Homo sapiens: one gene and its partners. The protein of the gene in region 1 purifies or fractionates together with the protein of each later gene. This does not show direct contact. Each region holds a gene or a part of one and is shown in the gene's direction. Other genes may lie near its edges.

The links. The genes of interacting proteins can lie anywhere in the genome.
Region 2: the proteins of CLEC5A (region 1) and MTX3 purify together in Homo sapiens (affinity purification with mass spectrometry; 3 studies listed by BioGRID and IntAct, with this or other methods). This does not show direct contact.
Region 3: the proteins of CLEC5A (region 1) and REEP5 purify together in Homo sapiens (affinity purification with mass spectrometry; 3 studies listed by BioGRID and IntAct, with this or other methods). This does not show direct contact.

The regions. Positions count from the first base shown.
Region 1 is NC_000007.14:141,929,958-141,936,977, reverse strand, and holds part of CLEC5A (C-type lectin domain family 5 member A), read left to right. Parts: intron 1-1,027; coding exon 1,028-1,164; intron 1,165-5,128; exon of another isoform or gene 5,129-5,151; coding exon 5,152-5,258; exon of another isoform or gene 5,259-5,403; intron 5,404-6,759; coding exon 6,760-6,874; 3' UTR 6,875-7,020.
Region 2 is NC_000005.10:79,988,262-79,995,927, reverse strand, and holds the start of MTX3 (metaxin-3), read left to right. Parts: upstream 1-4,665; 5' UTR 4,666-4,689; coding exon 4,690-4,770; intron 4,771-5,264; coding exon 5,265-5,334; intron 5,335-5,691; coding exon 5,692-5,768; intron 5,769-6,683; coding exon 6,684-6,776; intron 6,777-7,283; coding exon 7,284-7,466; intron 7,467-7,612; coding exon 7,613-7,666.
Region 3 is NC_000005.10:112,919,227-112,926,724, reverse strand, and holds the start of REEP5 (receptor expression-enhancing protein 5), read left to right. Parts: upstream 1-4,497; 5' UTR 4,498-4,534; coding exon 4,535-4,652; intron 4,653-5,468; coding exon 5,469-5,562; intron 5,563-7,498. UniProt on the Homo sapiens protein: Plays an essential role in heart function and development by regulating the organization and function of the sarcoplasmic reticulum in cardiomyocytes.

The DNA.
Region 1 (7,020 bases):
AGACAGAGGATTCACTTTTGGCCCAGGGTATGTCTAGGTGTCTCTACAAATGTCTTTCAGGAACTAGGGTTTGGAATGGGGACCTCACGACTCTGACTAGTGCCCTATTCTACTGTGGCTTGCATCCAAGATGCAAGACAAAGTACTCTTTACTCTTCCCTCTCCTCTCCTCAAGCAGAAAGAAAGGGTCTCTTTTGGAGCTGCAAGTTGTGCTGCTTGGGGTTGGGAGAGCAATGGCACAAGCATTCCCTTGGCCACCCTGGCTGGTATCTCAGTAGGTGCCCCCTAATTCCACTGGCTCAAAGCCCAGCTCAGCACAAGGACTTGCCTAGGAGTTGCAGTCCTTGTGGCCTAGACTACCCTTCAAGTTTATTTAGGGCCCCAAAGCAATTCAGCTCACAGTGGCGAGGCTTGCCAGAACTCAGGTTTCAACCACTGGGATGGGTTATTCCCCTCCGGCTAGCGCTCATCTAAATGCTTCCTCCATGGGTGGGTATCAGCTGAGTTTGGTCCGTTTTGCCCTCCACTGTGACAGGGCAGCACTGAGTCCAATGTAAAGTCTCACAATCCCTGCACACTCCCTCTCCCATGCACATACACTTTACCATGCCATGCTGTCACTGCAGCAGGGATAGGGTGGGGGTGGTGTCAGCAATTCAAGACTATCTTTCCTACCCTCTGCAGTGCCTCTTTCAGCTATCCAGGTACTGAGTGTTCATCTGATTTTTTGTTCTCATGTATGTATATGTGCTTTTTTGTGTGTAGATAGTTGTCAAATTTGGTGTTCCTGTAGGGGGATGACTAATGGAAACTTTATTCAGCCACTGCGCTCTTCTCCTTATTCTCCTTATATTATTGTCAAGGAACCAGACTAGACTGGGTGGAATTTCTTCCTGGATGGAGAATAATTTTTACCAATATAATTGTTAAAACAAAGCAAAAATATGTATCACTGTTTCATGACTTAGTTGCAGGATTCATAACCCAAACCAGTAAACTCGTACTCTCCTTTCTTGGACCTCTTCAGTCTGCCCCAAAGACTGGGAATTTTATCAAGCAAGATGTTTTTTCTTATCCACTTCTGAATCATCTTGGAATGAAAGCAGGGACTTTTGCAAAGGAAAAGGATCCACATTGGCAATTGTCAACACGCCAGAGAAACTGGTGAGAACACTGGAATGGTACAGTAAAGCCACACACTCCACACAGCCTCAGTGGGTGGGATGGGGTAGAAACTTGGGGGAGTGGGGATGGGATGGAGTGAGGAATGGAGAGGTGGCTGGCTGAAAAACTGAAGCTATTTGTTCTGGACTGGAGGTTAGGAGATTCTTCTTAGTAGCAGTGAAGCAGCATGATTTTCCAGTTTCATTTAACCACAGAAATTCGCACCTTGTGGTCTTTTCTATAGCGCACTGTAATTAGCTGATATCCTGGGGATGGGCCAAGACATTTAAAGTGAAGCAAATGACCAAATGAGATGATGTGTATAAAAGTTGTTTAACAACAAAAAGAATACCTTATAGATGTGATGTCAATGTACCATCCCAGTCTGCATAGTAAACAAGGAAGACGTGAACTGACAAAATTAGTAGTGTGAAAAAGTAAGAATCAGGTCATACTGAATTTGCAGTTGATGATCATGATAATAATAATGAGGATGTATTATTATCCACATTTTATAAATGGCAACTAGGGCACAGAAAAGTAATTTGCCCAAGGTCAAATAACAGAACGTGGAATTGAATTCAGAACTCTCTGACTCCAAAACCCATACTCTAATCTGTGCTACATACACTATACTCTTGCTTCTCTCGCTTCTATCCCTTTATTCCTCCTCTAGAAAGTCCTCCTGTGATTTAGAAGAATTTGTAAGAACTTCTCCTTTCTGAATCTTGGTAATAGATGACCAAGGGATCTGGATGCTACAAACCCTCTAGGGCTAAGTACCCAGGTAGCAAGGGAAAATGTCTTAAGATAGAAAAACAGGAGCAAGACAGGGGAATGAAAAGAGGAAAGGAGGGAAGGCAACGGGAAGAAGCAAGTGTGACAAGTCTGCCACACCCATTAAGTTTTGTGGATCCCAATTTGCTTGACCAAAACACATCCATGTACCTTTTCCTTGGTGATGAAAAAGGTCATCACTACTAACCTGGCCAACATGGTGAAACCATGTCTCTACTAACAATTAGCCAGGTGAGGTGGTGCATGCCTGAAATCCCAGCTACTTAAGTGGCTGAGGCACAAGAATTGCTTGAATCCAGGAGGCGGAGGCTGCAGTGAGCCATGACTGTGCCACTACACTCCAGCCTGGGCAACAGAGCAAGGCTCTGTCTCAAAAAAAAAAAAAAAAAAAAAAAAAAAAAACGTTAAAGAAAAAGACAAAGGTCATCATGGCAATGGTTTGCTGCTGACTCGCAAGTCTGTATCTCCAGCTCATCCTTCTCCTCCCAACAAGTATACCAAATTCCACTTCGATGTTTCAAGAGGCCCACAAACTCACTATGTTCAAAACTGAGTCAATTATATTTGACCCCCCCACTCTTCCTGTTGCATTCCAAATACTGGTGAGTACTCATGTCACCCAAGATTGAAGGCTTAAGAGTTTTCTGGGACTTTACCTTCTCTTTTCTTCCTCAATTATTTGTTAAACAAGTCCTTTTCTCTCTATGCCAACAACAAATAGTTCAGTTCTCACCTGGATTTCTTCAGAATTCTTCTAATCCATCTCCTTGCCTCCAGTTTTGCACTCTTTCTAGCTATCCTCCTCAGAACTGACATTATAATACCTCTAAGGCTCTAAACTGTACCATTTTCCAAATTAAAGTGGGTTAAACGCCAGTTCTCCTAGCATGGCATATGTCAGGTTCATGACCATGCCAAATGTCACACTCAGGGTCAGGTTCCAGCCCATGCTAAGGTCCTAGGGGAGTGGGTGGGTGGCAGATAGCTGAAAGAACACTCAGGGGGCCATACACAGGTGAAATGTAGTTTTATTCAGCAGCTCTTTCATCAGCAGCTTTCTCATACTCTCTGTCTGTCTGTCTCAGCTGCTTGCTCCAGCCGCTCCCATTCACAGCTGCGCAGCCGGCTCTCCCTTAGCGTTCAGGGTCAGCAGCTTAACTCTTTCTCCCTCTGGGCATGAATGCATGCTGAGCCATGTCCTGGCTGCCCTCTATCAGTCTGCAAGATGGACAGCCTTGGTTCTCTCTCTCTTTCTCTGGGCACCAGAGCCTGTACCATGTCAAGGCACGTTGAGCCAAGCCAAGTTGCGTGCACAGCATCGGCAGGTCAATTATACCTTTTTCAAACAATAGTGGCTCTGAGCTAAGCATGAGCTTACACAAATAGGTTATATAACAAGTATATATATATATATATATATATATATATATATATATATATGCCTGCTCCCTAAACTCGCTGAGTCACTTTGGCCTGGATGTCCACCTCAGCCTATTCCTTGACCAAAGCACATCCATGTACCTTACATCATATCAGGCCTTGCACAGTGCCGCCTCTGCCTTTGCTCCAGCCTTGTCTCTCAAACCACCTCCCTGCCACCTCTGCACTAACTACGCTGAGCATCTCGTAGTTCCTCAAGAGCTCCAGGCTGCTTCCCCACCTGCCTATAATCCATGCTCTCTTCCAGGAAGTCCATACTCTCCCTGACAGTTTGTCTGACAAACTTAGCTATCTCCTAAAATTCATCTCAGGTATCACCTCATCTATCATTCTAGAAAAACTTCAGATCTATGTAGAATGATCGCTTCCTCCTTTCTGCCTCTTCCAGATCCAGTATATAATTTCCTAGTACTACACCTGAGATACCTCCTTATGCTAGTTAAGTTGGTTGTCTTCCCTCATTAAACCTGTGGTTCTTCAAACATGATGGGACCACTGACTTTTTTAAAATGGTGATAAAATCTATGTACCCCTTCCCAGAAACATTACATAAGCAAAATATTTTTCATAACATTCCAGTGGTTTCATAGTTTTCCTGGGAAACCATCCATGGCTTCCAGCATGAGAGTTCAGCATTAAGGATTCTGGTTTTAGACCATGGGTCAGAAAACTTTTTTAAAAAAGGGTCAGATAACATACATTTTAAGCTTTTCAGGGCATTGGTCTCTGCTGTTGTAACTTGAAAGCAGCCGTAGATAATGTGTAAACAATGGGCATGGGTGCATTCCAATAAAACATTTACCAAAACAGGATGAAGTCTGGATTTGGCCCACTGGTTGTAGTTTGCCAACCCTCTTGATCATAATTTCTTTGAGGAGAAATATATTTGTTTCCACATCCTCAGCCTAACACAATGCATGGCATATAATAGACACTCGAGAGATGTTTGGTGAATGAGAACATTCAGTAATTAATTAAAAAGTAATGAAATAAGATATTTCAGAAAAGGAGAACATTGAAAAGTGAGAAACTAAGGAAATAGCCATGGGGATGGAAAGAATAAGACTTGGATACCCACTGATTATGGGACGTATGTGACAAGTATAGGAAACACTTCTGGCTGAAATGATTTGTAACTCACCAATTAATTACAGAACAAAGATGTCTAGGACTAGTGTCAAATCAGCAAATATTTGACAAGCACTTGCTTATTTCTTCTTGGATTACACTTTTAAAAGCAATACACTTTTAAATCTCACCGTTTTCCTTTCCTAAGTACTCAATATATAGAAACACATTTTATTAGCACTTGGTTCAGCCTCACTTAGCATACAAAATTTCTGGCAACAAAAACAATCCTATGGATAGAAGCATGACATATTTTTTTAAATGACCCTGTTTTAGATTGTACAGTACCCCTTCCCCTTCATTCTCACAGTGTGGTCCCTGGACAGAAACATCAGTATCACCTGGGCATTTTGTAGAAAAGTAAATTATTGGTTCCCTTCACTAGACCTACTTAACCAGGAGCCCAGCAGTCTGTGTTTTAACAAGACCTCAGGTTTTCCAAATTCCCTCTGAATCTTGACAATGACTTCTTTAGGGTTAGTTGTGAGTCCCAGCTATAGCTGGTCCCAGAGTTCTCTACCGGCCTTCCTTATTCCCAGGATCAGATATAATCATGGGCACATTGGCTCAAGAGAGGCATCATTAAAAGACTCACTGGTAAAATTTTTTTTTTATTTCCAGAAGTTTCTTCAGGACATAACTGATGCTGAGAAGTATTTTATTGGCTTAATTTACCATCGTGAAGAGAAAAGGTGGCGTTGGATCAACAACTCTGTGTTCAATGGCAAGTACGTGAACATGCCACAGTTTCCTGGGGATCTTGGTTTGCTTCAAAAGACCAAACCTGAGATTGCTGGGTTCACCCTGGAATAGCTCAAACGCTGACACTTGACTCTGTTCTGCTCTTCTCCTTTCTTCCAACCCATCTATTCCCTGAGACACATTTTAATAAATGTTTTCTTATGAAAGAGATCAAACTTTCATAAGGAGAAAGAAGAGTATTCATATAGCAAATTATTTTATTCATATCAAGATCCAAACAAATCCACCTACATAGCATTCATTTGATGTATCTTGTAGCTCTCTATAGATGCTAGTTTCCATAGCACTGAGCATTTCTGACTGATCAAAAAAGCTCAGTCTCTTGACTTCAAACAGACTAGATATGAGTCTAGACTGGATGCTAGCCATCTCTAGGAGACAGGGTCAGTTTTATGGAGGCAACCCAGTTGGTATAGAGATGAGATCTATTTCTATAACACTAGTGTTTCTGACTGATCAAAAGGGCTTCGTCTTTTAACCCACAGATCACATTTTATTACAAAGTACATACAAGTTTCCCCAGATATGCCTTCTTTATCTAAGAAAGGTTATTATAAGCAACTTGTCTATGTCTTAAAGCTATGAACTTCTGACCCCCAAGAGCTGTCTCCTGTGAATTGTTCCATGGAGATGAGGATTGGTGAGAACATCAATAATCTTCCCAGTGTTTATACAAAAATAGTGATTCAGACAGAGGTCAAGTCAGTCCCCCAGCCTGTAACTGGGCTTCCCTACAGAGAGGAGGAAATTGACATTTATTCAGTGTCTGCTAATGCCAGCACTATGCTAAACACTTTGCATATGTTGTTTCCTGAAATATTCCCCATGATGCTACATGAAAAGCTTTTATCGCTCCCCATTTCACAGACAGTTGAACTGAGGACAAGTAAAGCTTAGAAATGTGTTAAATATCATAAAGCTAGTCCCAAACACATGACATTTCTCCGAAACCAGAGCCTTTTCAGTCAGACTGAAACAGACTGAATGACAGAAAAAGAGGTGGGAGAGCCAACAAATACCTCCACCAAGTTTTTCTGAGGCCACTATGGTCTGGAAAGGGATGCACAACCTCTCTCCTTTTCCTTCCTGTCCTCTTGCTGTGAACATGCATGCTATCCTAAACAGTACTTTTGGAAGAAGAGACAGCCCATGAGATGCTTCTAACCAAATGCCAGAGTGAGTTAGTTAGTCCAAGACTGTGAATCCATACACGCTCACAGGAGAGCTGACAGGAAAGGGTGGGTTTAGAGCTGCATTTGCGGAGCTGGATTAGGAAAAGGATCTGAGCTAAAAAGGAGGCTACGCAGATGGAGACGTGTGTGGGCCCGGTAGTCTGCTGCCCTTCCAGGCAAAACTCCTGCAAGACTCTCACTCTGGAATCAGGAAGAGGCTGGGCTAAAATGATGGGCCATCACCATGCTTTGTTTTTTGTTTGTTTGTTTTGTTTTGTTTTGTTTTCTCATTTAGTGTTACCAATCAGAATCAGAATTTCAACTGTGCGACCATTGGCCTAACAAAGACATTTGATGCTGCATCATGTGACATCAGCTACCGCAGGATCTGTGAGAAGAATGCCAAATGATCACAGTTCCCTGTGACAAGAACTATACTTGCAACTCTTTTTGAATCCATACAGGTCGTCTGGCCAATGATTCTTTTACTTACCTATCTGTCTACCAGTAGCGGTCCTTGCCCATTTGGGAAACTGAGCTTCTTTCTTCTGCACTG
Region 2 (7,666 bases), on another chromosome or scaffold:
CCTGACCTCAAGTGATCCTCAAGTGGTCTGCCTGCCTTGGCCTCCCAAAATTCTGGGATTACAGGTGTGAGCCACTGTGCCCAGCTGTCTTTTTAAAGCCCCAATCTCTTTCTCTCAGGCACTTTTATTTTTTTTCTAATGTAATAGGGAAATTTGAAGGTAACTGATTTATCTACTCAGCATCCCATAGTTCCCCTTGAAACTTCCTCCAGTGTCAGAAAGAGAGCATGTCTCTCATTTTCAATGCCTGCCAGCCCCGCTGCTCAAGCTCCGGATCTCAGCCTCAACTCTTAGGGCAATTTCTAGGATCCCATCCTTCTTCTCTCCAGCATCTTCAGACTTTTACTCATAATAGCCAATTTTGTCCTCATATGTGTGTAGATTCACCATGTCGTCTCTTTCAAAAACTTTGAGTCTTTCAGTCCTGTCCCATTTCTCTTCTTCCTTTATCAGTCATATTCCTCATGCTCTTAGACCTGTCCTTATCGTTTATACCCTTTTCTCCAGTAATCCCTTGCCACTGGATTTCTAACAACCTCCTCTATCAAAAATGCTCAGCGGAAGGGTGCCAAGTGACCTTCCTCCAATAATATTCAGCAGCATTTTCCACCACACTTTTACTTTATTTAATATAGTTTATGGGTTTATAAAATGCTTCTTCTTATAATGTCCATGTAACAATAGCTGTCTACCTCCCATCCTTGACTATGTAAATCCACTAATATTGTATTTGGACTTTTACTTGTCTTTACTTTCTCAAAACTATAAATTCCCATGCCTTCCAATTCTGGTTCTCAAGTTAGTCAACCAATACTCTCCCTGAGCAGTCTCCAGCTTATAACCAAACCCAGCATTCGTTTACTCATCTTCAGATTCCTTGCCATAGTCAGTCCTGTTTCTATGCCTTCACTTATATAGCACAGCCCATATGCAATGCCTTACTCTGTGCCAATCTAAATGCAACGTACCCACCCTTCGAGATCAGCTATCATCTTCTTTCATTAGGCCTTTGCCAAGCATTGCAGTACATTCAAGCCTTTGTCTAAAACCATACTAGACTTGTCTTCTTGACAAAATGGTACTTCCTAATAGTCTCTAGTTAGTTCAAATATGTGGGCCTTGTTTCATCAACTGTGCCTCTAAAAGCTTGAACATAAGTTTTTGCACAATCACGGCTCACTGCAATCTTCTCCTCCTGGGCTCAAGCCATCCTCCCGCCTCAGCCTCCCAAGTAGCTGAGACTATAGGCACACACCATCATGCCCAGCTATAATTTTTGTGTTTCTGTTGAGACAAGGTTTCATCATGTTGTCCAAGCTTGTCTTGAACTCCTGGGTTCAAGTGATCCTCCCTCCCAAAGTGCTAGGATTACAGGCGAACATAAATTTTTATTCCCTGACAGGCTTGCAGTGTGCTAGGCATACAGAAGCTGCTTAATGAATTCGTTTAATGGTGTAATACTAAACAAATATTATTTACATAAATAATAACAATAATATCATGGCATTGATATCTCCACTTTGGGTGAAACTGGGCTTTTTAATGGACTACACAGGAGGCTACATGAGGCAGTATGACACAGTGGTTAAGAGTATAAACTCTGAAGCCAAAACTGCCTGGGTTCAAATCTTGGTTCTACCACCTACTGGCTATATGGGTACTGATATTTTCTTCTATTTTCAAGGAGGGACACAAAGATGTTAGTTAACCTTAGGAAGGTACCTGTGTCATGAAATCATTATGGAGATAAAGCAAGTTATGTTAGATACTTGAAACAACTTCTGGCATGTAGAAATTGCTCCATAAATGTCAGAAATTATTAAATGTTCATTACACATAAAATGATAGCATCTCAGAGATAAAAGAACTTTTGCTTTATAAATGAATGAGCAGAGGTATCAATGTAAAATGATTGGCCCAAGCGCATATGGCTAATCAGAGGCCAAGTCAAGAACTCAGCTCTCCTTTTTTCTATTCAGTGTTTGTTCTTTCCCCTCCTTAAGGATTTTATATCTGAACACAAATTACAGAATCTTCAAGTTCAAAGGGATATTTAAGACTTTACAATTTAATTTTCCCATAAGGGACCATATACTGTACCATCATTTGTCACAAACCTTTCATCTTTCCCAACAGCACCATTTCCCAGATTCTTAATCACCCAGACAAAAAGAGCCTAACAAACCTTGCACTGTGGCTCCCAAGTTAAGAAACACATGAAGGATGGGTATGGATGCCAAGGTCAGGTTGCCTGAGTTCAGATGACTATCACCAGATGAAACCATTCTTAATGATCATCTTTTGAAAAATAAGATTTCTTTTTTGGGGAAAACACTGTCTGGGATACTCATTATAAAGCTGTGATTCAGGCCATCCCACACAAACATGGATGTTTTGCAGACAGTATTCTTCCCGGTAGGAATCTGAAGTTATGATTTAGATGAACTCTGAACAATACTCTAAAACAGCCAGGAAAAGGCACAGGAGCCAACTAACCATACCAGGCATAATTTCTGAAGGCTTCAATTTTCTGTGTGGTTCTCTGGAACAGTATTCAGCCTGTTTGTGCAATCAGCTATGTTAGAGTTTTTTAAATTCAATCTAACAGATACAGACTCTCAAGAGGAACTGCAGCAATAAAAGATTGCTATTATCTATGCACTAATAAACCTGTGTGTAAGGATTCTTTCATCAGATGCAATGACATGCTATTCTGTCTCAATTCAACACTAAGGGAAGAGATTTAATTTCTCTTTAATGCAAATGAAATCACTGTATGTAGTAGCAGCAGTACGGAAGAAGGCCAAACTGAGTAACTGTGTTATGTGTCCACTAAGAATGTTCATTCACTCCTCTCAGTCCTGCTACAAACAAGGCTCAGGAAATCCACATTCTTTCTGTATGATTGTTTTAAATGCCTGAATGTAGTATATGGACCCTCAGCTTTATGGCTTAGGATTTTCTTTCCCCCTGCCTTGCCTTTGTCAGTCTATGGTTTGACATTTCTAACCCTCAAAACAGGGAGGTTCCATTACAATCTGAAAGTTGAATTACTTTACTTTCTTTATACTGAAGACTCAACAGATAGTCTCCACTGATCACACAGAGGATGCACTGTCCCTCCTTTGTGTTTCTGTAGTATTTTGCTTATATTTCTAACCCTACTCGTGATTATCTGACTTGTTACACCTTGGTGTGTGTATATCTCCTTTGTGCACTGTAAACTCCCGAGGACAGAATTCATGTTTTATATATTTCTGTATTGTTCCAGAACCTTATGATGTCTAAGACATAGGAGCTGCTCAATAAATGTTTCGACAGTTTTAATGGTACATATGTTATGCATTTTCCAATTATACAGTTATTATTAATGAATTCTCATTTCTGACATATCTCTTTTTCATTTCTTAGAACTCTTGGTTTTGAAACATGTAAAAAAGACTTTAGCAGGCTGGCACTGTAATTTGAATGATTATGTAAACAGTAAGGGAGTGCCTAGCAAATATTTGTTGAATAGTAATTTTACGAAAAGTTGCAGAGGTTTCTTTTGAGTTTTAGTTAAGAAGATCCGACCATCTCAGTGGAATAGAGGAAAGAACTCAGAGGCATGACTGCGAGGGTGTCCCAGAAAGACTACTGTGCCTTCTAGAAAAAAGACCCAGCACCCAAGTTCTAACTCTGAGACCCAGTCATATGTTTGGATCATAGCATTTCCAAGACCAAAATTTCCTCTTTAATAGTTTTTCTGAGAAACTGTCAGGTTTAACGTCAAGAAACATTTAGTCTGTGCTCATTAGGCCCACAGACATGACGAGCTACATGATTTGAGGGGCCCAGTCCAAAATAAAAATGCAGAGCCCCTTGTTCAAAACTTAAGAATTTCAAGACAGTGACGGAAGAGCATCAGCCAAATGAGGAGCCTTTTTAAGCACAGAGCCTTGTGTGGCTGCACAGGTCCCAAACCTATGAAGCTAGCCCTCTTCTGTGAAAGGCAAAAGGTCTGTAGCTAGGGAGAGAAGCTACAATTCAAATATGCACAAGGGGCTACAAGAACCCAGAGCTCCTAACTTTGTAAAAACATCACAGGGAAGGTGAGTTAAGCTCATTTTTGAGGGAGCAGCTGCATAGGGAAGAAAGATATTCCAGATTGAAGGACCAGCACTGAAGGTGGGCACAATTTACCTGACGTTCAGAAATACTGTAACTTTTAAGCAGGGTTGTGCCAGTGAACATGAGGGTGAGAACAGGTTGAGGCTGGAAAGGCAGGCAGAGGCCACATACATGGGAGAAGGGGTTGAACAATTACTGAGTGCCTCCTGTGTGCCAAGTTCTTTCTCTCCGACATTGTAAATACCACAATCTTGTAAATACTGGGTCATCCCTGTTTTACAAACAGGTTAATTTAGGCATCACACAGATTTAATGTTCAAAGGGTTTGGAACACTCTAGGGATCTAATAAATATTAATATTTGAAGAATTACTGGTGGGTCTGACTTAAGGCACACAACTCTTACCCTTTAGGCCAAGCTGCTCCTAAGAGTTCTTCTTAATCCCTCCAGTCGTTGTTTCTCTCATCTCTCAAGAGCCCCCAAATTACCCTTCCCTCCCTTAGCCACGCCCCCGCGTTTCACGTGCCGGAAATTAGGAGGAAAAGTACTTCCGGGATAGTAAAGGTCGGCCCGCGCAAGATGGCGGCCCCCTTGGAACTCAGTTGCTGGGGAGGCGGCTGGGGACTCCCATCGGTTCACAGCGAGTCCCTGGTGGTGATGGTGAGGCCGCCTCGCGGGCCAGGGCGCAGGAGGAAGGGGCGGGGCTGGAGGCGCCAGGCTGACTTGCCCCAGTTTCCCGCTGCGCTGCGGGGTCCAGGAGGGCCGAGCCGCTGCACGCTGCATTGCCCTGGGCTCCCTCCCACCGACGAGTCCCAACCTGGCCGATACCCCCGCCGAAGGCCGGCGGCGACATCAAGGCTTCTCCGCTTGGCTCCGAGTTTTGTCCGCCTCACAAAGCTGTCTGGGCGGTGGAGTGAAACCCCGAAGCAAGGGGCGCGCCCTCCCTACTCTGCATCCCCAGGACCTTTTGGGGAGCAAAGTCCTCGAAAGCCGGGTGGCTGGCGCCCGCGTCCCTACTTGAGATCACGGGGAGGGATGCGGCCTCAGTATCAGTCGCCTTCTGCCTTTGGGGGATGGGGCTGTGAAGTAAAGCTGCTCTGCAGCTTTGCATTACGCACTTGGTCTAAAATGTTTGATTGCAAACTCTGTTTCAGGCTTATGCCAAATTTTCTGGTGCACCCTTGAAAGTCAATGTGATAGATAACACCTGGAGAGGTTCAAGAGGTATAGTGTAAACCTTTACACTCCCCTTTCTGCACTCTTTTTTTTCTTCTTCCATTTAAAGCTGTGAGGTATATAGCTATAATATTGAGGATTTAGTTTCTTACCGTGACCTTGGCTCTGTGTTGTTTATGGTTTGATCATTCTGAGTAATACCTCAAAGTGCAAGCGAAATCACTGGAAATTATGAGAAACGAAAATGTTCTTTAGAACCGCTCTTTGTGAAACAGCAAAAAAACCAAGACAAGCTTACTCATTTTTTCCCCTCTAAATGTGCAACTGCTATAGTTTTTAGGATATTGGAATCTCTCAGAGGAAATCACACTGTGTCCTTGTATGTAAACTGTTTTTTGATTATAGGCGATGTACCAATTTTGACAACTGAAGACGACATGGTTTCTCAGCCAGCAAAAATACTAAACTTTTTAAGAAAACAGGTGGGTGGTTCACTTTGAAGAAGTAGATTGGTAGATTGTTGATCCCTGCATGTTGGGCTTTATTTTATTTATTTATTTTTTTTTGCCAACTCATTAGACAATTGGAGATACCTGGGACAAGATGTAAAAATAGATTTGAGAATCACTGCTCTAAAGCATGAGTTCTGTGATTTGAAAGTCATATGAAGAGGTAGTCAGTTTATATTTTAATAAACTTTGCTTGAATTTTATTGAAATTTGTATGTAAGTAGATTTAATTAGCCATTTTCACTATTAAACTTATTGATAGGATTGTGTATTTTGTCACATAGTTGGTACACATTTTGTGCTGGGCATGACACCTGAGCTCTCACCAACTAGCAACTATATTATTTTTAAAAAGCTCTTAATAGCAGTTTTATGGAATAATGTATCTAAATGTTTTAACAGTAGAGAATTATGTATCCAAAATGTTTAAACATGTAAAGATTTATATGAATGGATAAGTTATTTGTTTTGCCAATACTGTACTTAAAAAAATTGTGTCAATAACATTTTGAACTTTTATAAATTGGAAGGTTTTTTCTTTTGTCTTGGGGAGAAACACAGCCAATTGGAACTGTTTCCTTCTTGTTAAAAATAATAGTTGCTTTGTTTGTACTACATGCCATGCACTGAACTAGGTCATTAACAAGCATGAAAATAATAGTAGTTAATATTGTAACATTTATTGACCATATTGTGTATGTGATGCTGTGCTAAGAACTTTATGTGCATTAAGCAATAGGTTTCACTGGATTTGTATTTCTCTTTCTCCCATTTTAATACCACGTTTGCTATTTGTAAGGAAAAATATGAATCCTGATTTGATTAGTTTTACTGTCTTTGGGCTGCTCTTTGACTTCTGAGTTTCTTTGGTTTATTTTTTTTTAATAGAAATATAATGCTGATTATGAACTCTCAGCAAAACAAGGGGCAGATACATTGGCTTATATTGCTCTCCTCGAAGAGAAGCTTCTCCCTGCAGTGGTGAGTGTTCTTAAATATTACAGTATTTTAGTAGCCTAGTTGCAAATGTACATAGTCTGTTTAGAAAAAAACCAATGAGAAAAGTCTTAAGAGAAAATTTTACTTATATGTTAATCTTAATTCCTTCATATTACTGTGAAACTGGATTCTGTTAGGCATTCAACTAGTATGTGAAACAACAAAGTAAAATAAAATGTCATGTTGGAAATTCTTTGTGGGAGATGGATCTTTTTGCTCCATGTATAGAATTGGGTGTAATTCATTCATTCAACAAATGTTTATTGAACACCTGCTATGTGTCAGGCCTTGTTCTGGGTGTTTGGAAGATAGCAGTCAACAAAACTCACACATTTAAAATAATCTTGTTTTATCCTGAGTCATTCTAACTGGAAAATTTGTATGAAGACACTTCATATAAAGATATTTATGAAAAACTCTCATGTTGATTGAGTGATCTTTCATTTAATAAAAGAACATCCTTGTAGTGTTTTTTCTCTTCTTTTGCAGCTTCACACATTCTGGGTTGAGAGTGACAATTACTTTACTGTGACAAAGCCATGGTTTGCTTCACAAATTCCTTTTCCTTTGAGTTTGATCCTGCCTGGAAGAATGTCTAAGGGAGCACTGAATAGGATTCTCCTGACCAGAGGACAGCCTCCCCTCTACCACCTCCGAGAAGTGGAAGCACAGGTATAGTATGGATTATTCTTCAAGCAAGGGCCCTAGAGAGAAAGGACAAGATAAAATGCAGACTTGAGTTTACCTAGAGATGCCTTCCTCAAAAGTAGTTTTAGAGTATCTTTTCTACTTTTGAGATATAATTTCATCCTTATTAGATATACAGAGATGCCAAGGAGTGCCTAAATCTTCTATCAAACAGATTGGGAACA
Region 3 (7,498 bases), on another chromosome or scaffold:
AAGGAAGAAATGCAAATGAACAATATGTTTCTAGATATTCCATGCATAGTTAATGTAGTACAAATGTTGCCACTGCATGAAATGTAGTGACAAAAACCTAGGTTGATTTGGATACCTAACTTAAAAGGATTTTGCTCCTTTGCTAAAATAAATAAATAATAAATAAAACAATCAAATTGTGAGGCTGGGTGTAGCGGCTCATGCCTGTAATCCTAGCACTTTGGGAGGCTGAGATGGGCGGATCACTTGAGCTCACAAGTTTGAGGCCAGCCTGGGCAACATGGCAAAACTCCATCTCTACAAAAAAGTACAAGAATTAGCTGGGTGTGGTGGTGCACACCTGTAGTCCCAGCTACTTGGAAGGCTGAGGTGGGAGGATGGCGTAAGCCCAGGAGGTGGAGGTCAGTGAGCCAACATTGTGCACTGCACTTCAGCCTGGGTGATACAGTCAAACCTTGTCTAAAAAAAAAAAAAAAAAAAAAAAAAAATCAGGACCGGCACTGTGGCCACCTGTAATCCCAGCACTTTGGGAGGCTGAGGCAGGCAGATCACTTGAGGTCAGGAGTTCAAGACCAGCCTGGCCAACATGGTGAAACCCCATCTCTACAAAAAAATACAAAAATTAGCCAGGCGTGGTGGTGTGCACCTGTAGTCCCAGTTACTCAGGAGGCTGATGCACGAGAATCATTTGAACCTGGGAGGCTGAGGTTGCGGTGAGCCAAGATCATGCCACTGGACTCCAGTCTGGGTGACAGAGGCAGACTCCATCTCAAAAAAAAAAAAAAAATCAAATTATGAATCACTTTAAGTATTCAAAAACAACCCCAACTTAATATACATACTGTACTCAGTAGGAAATTATACAAACTCACAACTGGTTTGAAGTTTACAGTTCAGTTATTCTGCTAAGCAGCTGTACTAGTTTCCTAGGGCTGCTGTAACAGTCTCACAAACTGGGTAGCTTAAATAATAGAAATTGAGGCCAGGTGCAGTGGCTCATGCCTGCAGTCCCAGCACTTTGGGAGGCCAAGATGGGGAGATCACTTGAGGTCAGGAGTTTGAGACCAGTTTGGCCAGTGTGGTGAAACCCCATCTCTACAAAAAAAAAAAAAATTAGCTTGGCATGGTGGCACACACCTGTAGCCCCAGCTACTTGGGAGGCTGAGGTGGAAGAATTGCCTGAACCTGGGAGGTGGAGGTTGCAGTGAGTGGAGATTGTGTCACTGCAGTCCAGCCTGGGTGACCCAGTGAGACCCTGTCTCTAAATAAATAAATAAAACAGAAATTTATTATCTCACAGCTCTGGAGGCTGGAAGTCCAAGATCAAGGTCTCAGCAGGATTGGTTCCTTGTGAGGGTTGTGAGGGAATGATCTGTTCCAGGACTTTCTTCTTGGCTTGTAGATGGCCATCTTCTCCCTGTGTTTCTTCACAGTCTTCCCTTTATATGCATCTGTCTCCGTCCAAATTTCACCCCCCCTTTTTTTTTTGAGACAGAGTCTCGCTCTGTTGCCCAGGCCGGAGTGCATTGGCTTGATCTCGGCTCACTGCAAGCTCTGCCTTCTGGGTTCACACCATTCTCCTGCCTCAGCCTCTTGAGTATCTGGGACAACAGGTGCACGCCACCACGCCCGGCTAATTTTTTGTATTTTTAGTAGAAATGGGGTTTCACCGTGTTAGCAAGGATAGTCTCGATCTCCTGACCTCGTAATCCACCTGCCTCGGCCTCCAAAGTGCTAGGATTACAGGTGTGAGCCACCGCGCCTGGCCAAATTTCCCATTTTATAAGGACAACAGTCACACTGGATTGAGGTCCACCCTAAGGAGTTCATTTGAATTTGACTACCTCTTTGAAGACCCTATTACCAAATAAGATCACACTCTGAGGTACTGTAGGTTAGGATTCCAACATGTCTTCTTTAGGGAGGTAGAATACAATTCAACCCATAATAGCAATGTAATATAGGGGTAAGAGCCTGATTCTGAATTCTAGCTCTGCCACTTATTGTGATATGGGAACTCACTATGTCTCATTTTTTTTTTCCTTAAATGAGGATGAAACAGGTAGCATCTTCCTCATGCAGCTGTGAGGATTAAATGAACTAGTCCACGTAACACTTGGAATACTGGGTGGTACAACACATGTTAGATATTCATTCATTCATTAATTCAACAAATAGTTATTGAACAACTACTAAGTGCCAGGCACTGTTCAATGTGCTTAAAATATTGAAGCAAATAAAATAAGCAAAAATGTCTACCCTCACGGAGCTCATAATCTAGTGAGGAAAGAAAGATAATTTAAAAATAGAACATGGTCTGGCATGGTGGTGGCTCATACCTGTAATCCCAGAACTTTGGGAGGCCAAGGTGGGCAGATCACAGAGTTCAAGACTGGCCTGGGTAACATAGTGAAACCCCATCTATACTAAAAACAGAAAAAATTAGCCGGACATGGTGGCACACGGCTATGGTCCCAGCTACTTGGGAGGCTGAGGTGGGAGGATGGCTTGAGCACAGCAGGAGGTCGAGGCTGCGGTGAGCTGTGACCACGCCTCTGTACTCCAGCCTGCGTGACAGAGTGAGACAGTCTCAAAAAAAAAAAAAAAAAAGTAGAACATAATGCCAGACAGTAATAAATTCTATGGAGAAAAATCAAGCTAGAGACCACTGGGGGTTGCAATTTGAGATTAGGGGTACCATTTGAACAAATATCTGAATAATGGAAGGGGACAGTTAAATGGTTAACTGGGGAAAGATACTTTCAGATAGAGGAGGGTTTCTGGACTGTCACATTATTGACATTTGGGGCTGGATAATTCTTTGTTGTGGGGGCTGTCCTGTGTGTTACAGGATGTTTAGCAGCACCCCTAGTCTCTAACCACTAGATGCTAGTTGCACTTGCCACCTCCTGCTCTCCTTGTGTGACAATCTGTTTCACAACGAAAGTATCTCTAGACATTGCTACTCCTCCCCCCAGGAGGAAGAAGGGGAGAGGAAGTGCTCCTGGTTGAGAACCACTGAAATAGAAGAAAAGTGAACGAACGCCCAGAGGCAGGAATGGGCTTACCTTGTCTGAGGCACAGCAAGGAGGGAGGCAGTAAGGGAAGACATCAGAAAGGGGAGGGATGAACCATGTCACCTGTGACCCTGATGCCCTCCTTCAGGCAGATAGGAAGTTGCTGGAGGGTTGAGAACAAAAACATAGCACAACTTGACGCACATTTTAAAACAGATTCTACTGTCTGCCACATTGAGAATTAACTGTAGGTGAAAAGACAGAAGTAGACAGCAGGTTGTTTCACTTGTTCACTGATTTGGCTGGGTGGTGGTAGGAACAGCTGAGAAAGCTGAGCTAAGAAGCTCTGAGGAAGAAAGGAGGAAGGAGAATTAGCATAAAAGGAAAAAGCTAGGCGTGGGCAAGATAACTTTTTGCAGAAGTGGAAGGCAGTAGGGTAATTAAGTAGATTTGAAAGCACAGAGGGGTTGTGTAGGACCAAGACAGAATGTTCGGGGCCAGTTGTGGGCAGGGCATTGAATGCTCTGCCAAGGAATGGGAGCTCTAGTCTGTTAGGATAATAATACGGAGCTTCGGACAAAAATTCTGCAGCAGTGTGCAGAATAGGAGTCAACAAGAGTAATTTTAGGAGTGTCTGGAAGTCATATGGGTGAGATAAGAGGAGCCTAGGTTTAGGTGGAGGAAGAGCATGGCCAACTCATTCTGAAGGAAGCAAAAATGAGCTCCTGCCCTAAGGCTTGGACCTTAGAATCTCCGTCTTCTTCAGAGTATTTTGACTGTAGGAAGTGCAGAGTATATTGGCTCCACAGAGAGAATTTGGACACTTGCCACAGTATCAGACACCAAGACAACGCAAGCCCACCATGAAAAGATTTAATGCAGTTTTTGCTTGGAAAAGGTGTACCCCAGGGAGGATGTGTTAGATTTCTTCAAGGGTCTTTACAAGGCAACGATTGTCTGTAGGTGAGAAAAACTGCCAAGTTAAGGCAAAGAGGGAGAAAGCAGGACTGCTTCCAAAGAGTTCTTTCACGATGCTCAAACATTTCAATTTTTTAGGTCAAAAATGCCTTAGGTTTAGCACAGCAATGTAGGTGCCAAACTCATCGCAGTGAATTGCAGGCGGGAGCAACAAGGACGCCTGCCTCCTTTCTGCCTGCTTTTTGCAATAGTCCGATTTGAGAAGGGGACCCACGAGAGACACAAAATGCACGCCCCCACGCCACATCCTTTTTACCCCGCAATGGGTTAAGACTGTCAACAGGCAGGCCACCTCGCAGCGTCCGCGGAGTTGCAGGCCCGCCCCCGCCAGGGTGTGGCGCTGTCCCCCTGGCGCTGGGCGGGGGAGGAGGGGCGCGCGGCGGCCGAGGAGGGGCGCGCGGCGGCCGGGCGGGGCGAGCGGAGGCGAGTGGAGGACGCGTAGACGCGCCGCGGTCCCCGCCTGCCGCTGCTCCGCCGCAGTCGCCGCTCCAGTCTATCCGGCACTAGGAACAGCCCCGAGCGGCGAGACGGTCCCCGCCATGTCTGCGGCCATGAGGGAGAGGTTCGACCGGTTCCTGCACGAGAAGAACTGCATGACTGACCTTCTGGCCAAGCTCGAGGCCAAAACCGGCGTGAACAGGAGCTTCATCGCTCTTGGTGGGTGGCCGGGGGTCGCCGCCGCTGGTAGGGCCACGGGAGCCGCCGCTGCCCCAGCTGCTGGGGAAGGAAGCAGGGAGAGGACTCGGGAAAGGTGGAGTCGGAGACAGACGGGACAAGCAGCATATTCAGGGATCAGGCTGGCCTCCCGGAAAGCGTGGGCATCGGAGGACCCCGCGGGGGCTGCCCAGGCTGAGGGTCGCGGGGCTGGAGGGCAGCTGCGGCGCCGGGCGCTGGCAGCTGGAAGGGCCAGCGCTGACGTATGTCTGCCCCGCGGCCCGGCGCCCTATTCCTGCTGTCCTGCGCGGTGGGCGCGGACGGCGGGGCCCCTGCGGGCGGGCGCGTTGACGGAGGTACCCGGTCCTACCCGACCCTCCGTGGAGCTCCGCCCGGAGAGGGCGCCTCTCGGGTGGGCGGGGGCTGCTACTGCAGCGTGTGCGGGAGTCCGGGCCTCTCGGGACGCTCCCCGCTGAGCGCAGCTTCCCAGGCTGGAGCGCTGCCCAGCAGGCCCTGCGAGAGGGCGGAAGCGGGTGCCTGGGACCGTCCCGGGCGCCGGGGGTTGCTGCGCAAAGCGCCGGGGCCCCCTGCGGGAGGTAGGAGAGGCACAATGGTGGGGCTGCCTGGTATCCCCAGACTTCAAGGCATAGCCCAGCGGACGCGCAGGCCCAGCTTTCGTGTGGTTTGTTTTTCTCGCTCCTTTAATCGAGTCGAGAGGAAAACTCCTACAACAGGCCCAGCCTCGCGGTGTGGGCGGCGGCTGTCCCGCGTGAACGGCTCTCATGCTGCCCGACCCACTTCTCTCCTTGTGGTCCCCAGGTGTCATCGGACTGGTGGCCTTGTACCTGGTGTTCGGTTATGGAGCCTCTCTCCTCTGCAACCTGATAGGATTTGGCTACCCAGCCTACATCTCGTAAGTGACACACCCTGCAGCCGTCCCCTTCCCTTCCTCCATTCCTCCCCGCAGGGCTGCTGCAGTAGACTGCACATCCGCAATTCCCGGGAGAAAAGTGAAAGCTCGGCGGGGAGGGATGAGGTTGGACATAAGGGGTGGGGATAGTATTCACCATTTTGGAACCTTAACTTAATCCCTATCTCTTGACGATTAGCCCAGAGGTATTTTCATTAGATTATCCTGGTGACCAGTGTCCCCTCTCTTTGGCACACTAACAGGAAAGCGCTACCACTCTGTCGTCCTCCCTTTACTGGTGGGAGGATCTCAGAAGGTACAGGGAGCTGAGCACTTCTGTCTAGTAATTATTTTAATGAGTATTTCACCATATATTTATGCACCTAGAGAGTAAAACCCTATCAATTAGGTCTTCCTTAATTCATAATTACGTTAATTGAGACAGTAGGGAGAATTTTCTCATTTTCTTTTATTTTGAAAAAGCCACATGTTACAGACAAACTTGGGAAATGCTTACCCTAGTGTAAAAACAAAAACCTTTAAAAATGCTCCATGATATAGCTCCTTGGTTATATAAGTGAGTCATTTATATAATTGAGCTACTTAAAAAATGAATTTTTACGATTAGGATCTGAATTTATTACCAAAGTTGTTTTTATTCTACAATGTGTTTATTTTTTTTAATTCTACGATTTTATTTTTCCATTCGTTCAAGTAGGAATTATTCCTCTCCAGAAATGAATTTTGTTTTGCTCTACAGTTCTTCCTAAGAAAGCCAGTGGTTTTTACCTTCATTCAGTTGGTCTCTGCTACTTTCTTCAACCATAGGGATAAAAATAAAGGAAGAAAAAATTTTCACCTAGGAGGCTAAGACACAGATAACACATTATTACAGCTTGTATCTGTCACTAGTTAGGCTAGAATTTAGTCTATGACTATAAGGGAAGAAACATGTTTTAGAAGTTAGTTCTGATTTGAGCAATTAAATTGCAGTTACCTAGTAGTTGTTACTGTGTTAGTCCGGTACAGACACTTAGTCATACTCCAGAAAGTCTAGCTACATATAGCCCTGAGGCCTACCCCGGGCTCTGCTTTATGGAGGAGACTCAAGGAAAAACGGGATTGTGTGCACAGAATAAAGCATACAGACCCCCGTGAGCAAATATTCAGGCGGTCGGTGTTACATTAGTCTAATCAAGTCTGTTCATTGCATAACCAATATGATTGTATAATTGTCCAAAAGAAAGAAAAAGTATTTGAAAATGGTGGTCTTTAGTAGCATCAAAATCCATGTTGCTTAAAGTGTGACCTGTGAACACTGTCTTAGTCTGCTTGGGCTGCTATAACAAAATACCTTAGACTGGATAATTTATAAACAATAGAAATTTATTGCTCACAGTTCTGGAGGCTGGGAAATCCAGGACCAAGGCACCAGCAGATTTGGTGTCCGGTGAGGGCTTGCTCCCTGCTTCAAAGATGGCATCTTCTCACTGCTTCCTCACATGGTAGAAGGGTCAACTGGCTCCCTCAAGCCTCTTTTATAAGGACACGAATCCCATGCATGAGGGCAGAGCTCTCATGCCTGTTTCTTTTCTTTTGAGACAGAGTCTCGCTCTATATTGCCCAGGCTGGAGTGCAGTGTCGTAATCTCAGTTCACTGCAACCGCCATCCCTGGCCGCCCCCACCCCCGCCAAATTCAAGCAATTCTCCTGCCTCAGCCTCCCTAGTAGCTGGGATTACAGGCGTGTGCCACCACGCCTGAGTAATTTTAGTATTTTTAGTAGAGATGCGGTTTTGCCATGTTAGCCAGGCTGATCTTGAACTCCTGACCTCAGGTGATCCACCTGTCTCAGCCTCCCAAAGTACTGGGATTACAGGCGTGAGCTACCACACCTGGCCAAGCCCTCATGTCTTAATTGCCTCCTAAAGGCACCACTA